Homo sapiens: one gene and its partner. The protein of the gene in region 1 purifies or fractionates together with the protein of each later gene. This does not show direct contact. Each region holds a gene or a part of one and is shown in the gene's direction. Other genes may lie near its edges.

Region 1 (4,231 bases):
CACATGGTTATGGCAGGAATGTAGGAAGGCTGTGACTCCTAGGCATCTGCTGGGATGACTTGTATTTTTGGTGTGCATTAGCACAACCTCTGTTGGGGGCTATATAACAATATCTATCCAAACTACATCTTTAGTGATCCAAAATTCCGCTTCTGGGAATTTATTTGGTAGATAAGCTTGCATTTGTATGAGATGATCCATGTAAAAAGTTATTTTTTATAGCACTGATTATGACTGCACAAGGTTGGAAACTATGCAGATGTTCACTGCTGGAGAACTTTCATGCAATGGATACCACTCAACTGTGAAAGAAAAAAGAGATAATTCTCTCTATAGTGAAGTGGAAAAACCTCCAAGATTAACTTTGCACAGAAAGAGCAAAATGCAGAGTGGTGTGTATGGAATGCTATCTTTAGTGCAAATAAGAGGAAAAACAAGAATATATTTTTATTTACATTTTTTTAAGTTAACAAGTAATGTCATAACACTCACTAGGTGTCAGGCACTTTATAAGTATTAATTTAATCCTTCTAACTTCAGGAGAAGGGCAGTAGGAACAGAGAGGTTAAGTAATTAGTCTAAAGTCACACTGCAAGTCACCTAAAGGAGCCAGCATTGACACCCAGGGCCTCCAGCTCCAAAGTTCCTGTTCTTAAGCATCATATTAAGCAGACTAATTTGAAGTTAAGAAAGGGAGGGTGGGAGGGAGGACTGGGTGGATGGGAGACTTACGTGACTTTTTATACATGTATTTTAGAACCATGTACATGTGTTACCTATTAAAAAGTTGAATTAGAAAAAAATATGTTTGATATCCTCAAGTCACTCACTTTCCACATGAGAGGCAGACGTCTCAAGAGAAGTAATAGTAGCAGCCTCTAGTGGGGGTTTATCAAAGTCTTACCCACTGTCCTCTGAGATTTTAGCATGAGAAAGATTATTTAACCTCATGAGATAGATTCCGTGCCCTGTGACCTGGGGTGAGCAGCTAACACTTGGGGCGCTGCAGTCTGGGGAGGCTGAGTGCACCGGCCCCCATGACCCACAGCCGTTGCCTTCACAGACCCCTTCTTCAGGAGCGCCCAGAGGTGGATCGCCGCCCTGGCAGGGACCCTGCCTGTCTTGCTGCTGCTTCTTGGGGGAGCCGGTTACTTCCTGTGGCAACAGCAGGAGGAAAAAAAGACTCAGTTCAGAAAGAAAAAGAGAGAGCAAGAGTTGAGAGAAATGGCATGGAGCACAATGAAGCAAGAACAAAGCACAAGAGGTAGCTGACCTTGGGAGTTTATCTGAGCCCCTGGCTTACGGGCCAAAGCCCAAAGACCTCACGCCCATCCCCACCGCAGAGCTCAGTTGCTTTTAAGGTTAATTTTTTAGAAAACCCCCTCACCTGTAACAGTTCATTATTATTTCTGCTTATTTTCCAGTGAAGCTCCTGGAGGAACTCAGTAAGTTCCCATTCCCCCAGAGACCCAGGCATGTCTTCCTGTCCCTGCTTTATGCGCCTTGATGCATCTTCCCCTGTTCCTTCCGTTGCAGGATGGAGAAGTATCCAGTATGCATCTCGTAAGTGCCTCTGACATTTTCTCTGAATTTGAATCTATAACTGTCTGTGCTTGAATAGTTTCCACTCTTAACTCTTTCCCCAAGGTTGGGAAGTGGTCTTAGATCCCTTTGACTAAGGAAAGAAAATAGATGTGCCAATTCCTAGTCATTGCCAAAAAGAAAAAAAAAAAAAGGAAAGAGAAGAAAGGAAAAAAGAAAGAGTGTGGCTGATTGGAGTAACACCCAGGAGGAGTGTTTCTTTCTCCCTCTCTTTCTCTTTCTCAGCTGGTCTCGAAGAAAAGATGCCTTCAATTTATCTCTACCAGGGGCCACAGACTCTATAGCCCTGCAAAGCACTGAGGAATATCCAGGGGCACATTTGTAAAGGAAGGGGGAAGAGGTAGATGAAGTGCATTCTCTATGGCAGGAACTTCACTAGTCATTTTACATAATCTATAGGCTCCAGAGAAGAAAAAGAATAAAAGATAATAAAGAACAAGAAAATCTGAAAAGAGAGAGGGAGAAAAGTGTGTCTAATAAACAAAAGTGGCCTGAACAGTCGCTCAGTTGGTACCAATTTATTCTAACTGACTTCAAACACTAGTCCCTGAAATTGCTCATTAAATTTCCCAAATTCTTTTCAGAGTAAGGTACGAAATTAGATTGATATAGAAGGATCTTGCAAACACACACACACACATACACACATTTAAATATATATATACACATATATACATATATACACATATATATGTGCATATATATGTATATATATATGTGTATATATATATGTGCATATAGACATGGAGACACCTATGCCCAGGTACAGGTATATAGATACATTCCAAATAGATCAGCTGAACACCATCAGGAAGGAACTCTCGCAATGTCTGCCATGTCACTAGCATTCGACTGATGTTCCTGGATTTGATACTAAGAACAACACAATAGAAAGAATTGAACCTGCAGAGGAGGAAGATACAGGTGGTAAAAAAAAAAAAAAAAAAAAAAAGATTAGATGGATGTAAAGTTAAGGGAATGGGGCCAAATCAAAAATGGCAAGTTCAGGTGACATCTCTATCTTTTTTTCATTGTAGGGGGAGAGAGACATTCAGCCTATAATGGTGAGTGAACCTGATGCTCTCTGAGTTTGCTGGGACACGTGCCATGAACATTTCAACCTTTTCTCTGCTGTGACCCATTGATGTTCTCATTTGCATGAATCAGATTTAACCCAAAGACTCAATTTGTGTGTTGTGGGGGGTTGATTTCTGCTTTTCTGGAGAATCAGAGAGACTCCTGACCCTGCACACCCCCTTGCAAAGCCTGGCCTTGCAGCCTGTACCCTTCATTGCAGAGGGAACAGAGCTCACCATTTTTGAGAAGGTACCACCCCTGATCCATCAGAGCTGTAGAAGAGGGAGGCTGGACCCTGGAAGAGACTCTGAAGAAAAGGAGAGAAAACATGTAGTGAGGGGAGAGTGCAGTGGGGAAAAGTACAAGAATACTGACCTTTTCCTTATCTGTGTCTCCTTCCTTTCAGAATGGAAAAAGGCCCTCTTCAAGCCTGGTGAGTAAATCACTGTGTGTTCCCTGGACCAACAACCTGAGGGACTATATTCCTTTTTCCTTTTTACTTCTCCAACTGTTGTGATTTGGGGAAGAAAAGCTCCCATGACTAGGAGAATTTGGGGTAGGCAACATTAAATTCCAATCTGAAAAGTGGGCCCATCTCCAAGACCCTTTCTGCTGAGAGCCCAGGGAACCAGGGCGAATAGATCTCTTGCACTTCCTCAGACCTTCCTGGGAAGGAAGACATATAAAGGGTGGATCTGAGGGGAAGGAGACACACACTGAGTAATACTGCAGGGAGAGTGAGGATGGAAATGCCAAGGAAAGGAGGCGATGCCTGCCCAAAGAACTTAGTCCTTCCCAGACTTCTCATGCCACCTACTGTCAGTGCCTTCTCAAAAAAACTTAATGCTTCTGAGCTTTGGCCTCCACATATTTAGGTGATGATTTCAATCTGTGTTTGTGGGGGTTGAGGTGAAGACTGAAGGAATAATAAATATCCATTGGTCAAAAACCTTAAGAAGGAGATGATGAGTTCAAACTGCGTGGTTGAAGGTTTGCAGAAAGGAGGGTTAAGGGAAAGCAACAAGGAAAAGTGCAGTGCCCCCATGGTTCCCAACAGTGGGGAGCTGTCTCCACTCCTACACTGGGACGGCTAGGGAGGGGAGGCAGTTACTGGAACCCAGAATAAGAAGTAGCTCAAAGAGAGGGCTCCCTGAGAAGAGTCTTCAGGCCTTGTTAGAGCAGCAGCAGCTGCTGCTGGCAGGGAGGAAGCAGGAAATTAAACGGTGTGTCTCTCCTTTCTTTCTCCTTCCAATCTCCTATCAGGGCCTCCCATTGGCCAAACCCAACAGCAAACCAGAGGACAAGGGAGCCCAGTGGCACTGTCTCAGGAATCTGCCCAGAGGACAGATTCCTGGGGCCCAGAAGAGGGTGGAGAAAGCTGAAGGGTGGAGAGTGAATCTAGGGCATATAAGGCACCACATAGAGCCCAGCACAGAGACGGCCTTGCAGCTATCAGGAAGATGAGGAGCTTCCTTCATGGCCTGCTGTGGGCTGAGTAAATAACATGATTGCCTTCTACAGCGCTAGAGATTCATTTGTTTATCCCCATTTT
Region 2 (3,500 bases), on another chromosome or scaffold:
AACCTCAGAAAAACCTAAATGGAGGGGTTTTATGTAAAATACCAAACCAGTACTCCTTAAAACTGGCAAGATAATGAACAACAAGCAAGGATTGAGAAACGATCAGACAGGAGGCATGGTGACAAAATGCACTGTGGGTATCCTGGATGGAGCTCTGGGACAGAAAAAGGATATTAATGGAAAAACTAATGAAATCCAAATGAAATTTGCAGTTTAGTTAATAGTGATGTACCAATATTGGTTTTTAGTTGTCGCAAATGTACTATCGTAATATAAAAAGTTAATGGTAGGAGAAACTGGGTGAGGGGTATATGGGAGATCTCTGTGTTATCTTTGTAACTTTTCTGTAAATCTAAAATTATCCCAAAATAAAAAGGTTATTTAAAAAAAAAACTAACAGGTTTGCCTGCCAAGAGATGAGTTTAAATCTTTTTAAGAAGTTTAAAATAGGTAGTATAAATATATAGCAATGGAAGTGTACTTCAACAATTATATGTGTTTTAAAGGAAAAAAATTTGCATATAGGCTATAAACAACCAATTTGTATGTATAAGAGACACTGTTATTTTTAAATACTTGTATTCCCTTAAAAAAAAGTATTGTATTCTTTTCTTAGGTCCTTCCACTGGAAAACCAAATGAAAGAATCAAAGCGTTTCCCTCAAGCGTTGAATATTGGCATGGGGATTGTTACAACTTTGTATGTAACATTAGCTACTTTAGGATATATGTGTTTCCATGATGAAATCAAAGGCAGCATAACTTTAAATCTTCCCCAAGATGTATGGTAGGTGTATATGAATTTGTCAATATTAGTTTATATATTTTATAATGTACCACTGTTTGATGATAAAGTCGTGTTCTTGGATTTATGGTTTAAACATTTAAAATTTTTACTGTGATTTCCTGGAATCCCATCACTTTGGGAGGCAGAGGTGGGCGGATCACCTGAGGTCGGGAGTTCAAGACCAGCCTGGCCAACATAATGAAACCCCATCTGTACTAAAAATACAAAAATTAGCCAGGCGTGGTGGCGGGTGCCTATAATCCCAGCTACTCAGGAGGCTGAGGCAGGAGAATCGCTTGAACCCGGGAGGCGGAGGTTGCAGTGAGCTGAGATCACACCATTGCAATCCAGCCTGGGTGACAAGAGCGAAACTCCGTCTCAAAACAAAAAAAAAATTACTGTGATTTATTTATTTGTGCAATCTGGAATTTTTTCATAATCTTCGTAGGAGACCAAATATGAACTTAGGGTTCTTGTGGGATTTTTAAAAAAATATTTAAAATTGGAGTTTTTTCCAAATCCAAGTCAAGTATAAGAGTAGAACAGGGATTATTTTAATATGGACACGTTTTAATAAAAAAATTAATACTTGTCCTTATTGCCAAAAAAGCCAAACACTCACGCTTCCTAATAAAATAATAGATTACATCATTTATGGTCCTTGCTATTTTGGTCAGCTTCATAGTGTATATTTTCCAAGTCCTTTCAGAACACAGTTGGGACACATTATAAATAATAAAACAAAATGGTGCATCATCTTAATGTTCTCTTTCATATTGGGACCATATCCTGCTAAATGAAGCATCATATGTATATGATTTTTCCTTTTTCCAGAGGTTTGTCTTTGGAAAATTTTCAAAGATAGTGGCAGTGATTACCATGCAGACTTACTTCCTTATTTACAAGATGGAAGGTAACTCCTTAGTTTTCACATACGCAAAGAATAAATTTGGAATCGCTGATTGAATTATTGTCACACTACTACTTTAGCTACTTGGATTAAAAAAATCTGTGTAATCTTAAATGTCTTACTATATTAGTGAAAAAGCAACAACAGCAGAAATTATATCTTCTGACTGGCCTCCTGGTGAGAATTTGTCTGTCATTTAATAGTCATTTGAATCCTGGGCATTTATTGGAGTCAAAAATGTTGCTAGGACAAATGTTTGTAGGAAGCCATTTATGACAGAGCAAATGGACCTAGGATAGTTTCCACATTGCACAAGGAGCATACATGTGGTGTGTCTGTATTTTTAAATTACAATTTAACTTCAGCTAACATAAATGTATTTCAAAATGGAAACATGTCTCAAATGTTACAAATATATTTCAAGGTGGAGTTATTATTACAAATAAGATATATGGTTATTTAGCATTTATTTTATTAACTCTTTATAGTTAATTATATAATTTTATTGCCTTCAAATGTGCTTTTTGGTTTCAAGCTTAAACAGCTTAGTATAAGAGAATCAAGCTAAAAATATGGTAGTAAGTTCATCTTTTCAAATACTGTACAATGTTTGGAAAATAGAATGATATTTTTTCCTCATTTAGAAGAATATTTTGAGCCGGGTATGGTGGCTTATGTCTGGAATCCCAGTGCTTTGGGAGGAAAAGGTGGGAGGATCACTTGAGGCCAGAAGTTTGAGACTAGCCTGCATAACATAGTGAAACTCCAAATCTACACAGAATTTAAAAATTAGCCAGGCATGGTGGCACAAGTCTGTAATTGCAGCTATTTGGGAGGCTGAGTGGGAGGATCACTTGAGCCTGGGAGGTTGATTATACAGTGAGCTGTGATGGTACCACTGCACTCCAGCCTGGGAAACAGAGAGACATTTTGTCTCAATAATATTAATAATAACAATAATATTTTGACTAGGTCTTAAAAATAATCATTTCAGAAATTGACAACTATTTTTAATGCCAAATGTAAAAGGTACATGGAAATAATGTCAAAATTCTTTCCCGGTCTTATTTACAAAAGCATGTAAGGAATATTTTAGGGGGGAAGTTTCCAAAGTGGGAGTGTGCACACATTCACATTGAAAGGTTTGTATTACCAGGCACATAAGAATGTGGTGTAGAAATAGTGGGCGAGAATAAGACAGAATGCTTTTGGTATTCACAACTCAATCTTGGAGGGTGACACTGTCCCTGCAGTAGCTCCAATTAATCCTTCCCTTTTCCCACAGCCCCTTTCTACATCTGACCTTATTCCTAATTGCTGTGACTTTCCAATTAGAATGGAACTAGTTGAGACTCTTGATTTAAAAGGGACCATTAGATCATAGTTTCTATTCAAGGAAGTCTAGCTAGACACCACCTTTCATTAGAGGAAACCCTAGTACAAGTATCCTAAGAAACAACAAAAATCTGGAAAAAACAGGAAAGCCAGTCAAGACACATATTTCCCTTTAGAGAATTTGCATTGGTTAATGCCTTTGCACTGTGGAGATATGCCCTATGCAGCCTATAGTCTGTTTCTGTGTGGACTCTGCAGTTGTGGGACAATTAAAATAATAGTCACAACTGAGGAATACAAGAGAAGAGTTGCTTGTCTTTTTACAGTCATGGCATTCTGTAAAGTGAGAAGTTTGGACTAGAATAATCATGGGATTACATTTAAGATTTCTTTCTTAATATACTATATACGAGTCTCTCTTTCACTTCTTTCCTGTGCTTCACACAAGAGGCCTCGAAAGTTAGAGATT

What was found.
Region 2: the proteins of BTN3A1 (region 1) and SLC36A4 fractionate together in Homo sapiens (co-fractionation; one large-scale study listed by BioGRID). This does not show direct contact.

The regions. Positions count from the first base shown.
Region 1 is NC_000006.12:26,408,470-26,412,700, forward strand, and holds part of BTN3A1 (butyrophilin subfamily 3 member A1 isoform a precursor), read left to right. Parts: exon of another isoform or gene 1-253; coding exon of another isoform or gene 254-392; intron 393-1,063; coding exon 1,064-1,264; intron 1,265-1,424; coding exon 1,425-1,445; intron 1,446-1,536; coding exon 1,537-1,563; intron 1,564-2,639; coding exon 2,640-2,666; intron 2,667-3,085; coding exon 3,086-3,112; intron 3,113-3,942; coding exon of another isoform or gene 3,943-4,061; exon of another isoform or gene 4,062-4,231. UniProt on the Homo sapiens protein: Plays a role in T-cell activation and in the adaptive immune response. Regulates the proliferation of activated T-cells. Regulates the release of cytokines and IFNG by activated T-cells.
Region 2 is NC_000011.10:93,159,992-93,163,491, reverse strand, and holds part of SLC36A4 (neutral amino acid uniporter 4), read left to right. Parts: intron 1-616; coding exon 617-786; intron 787-3,500.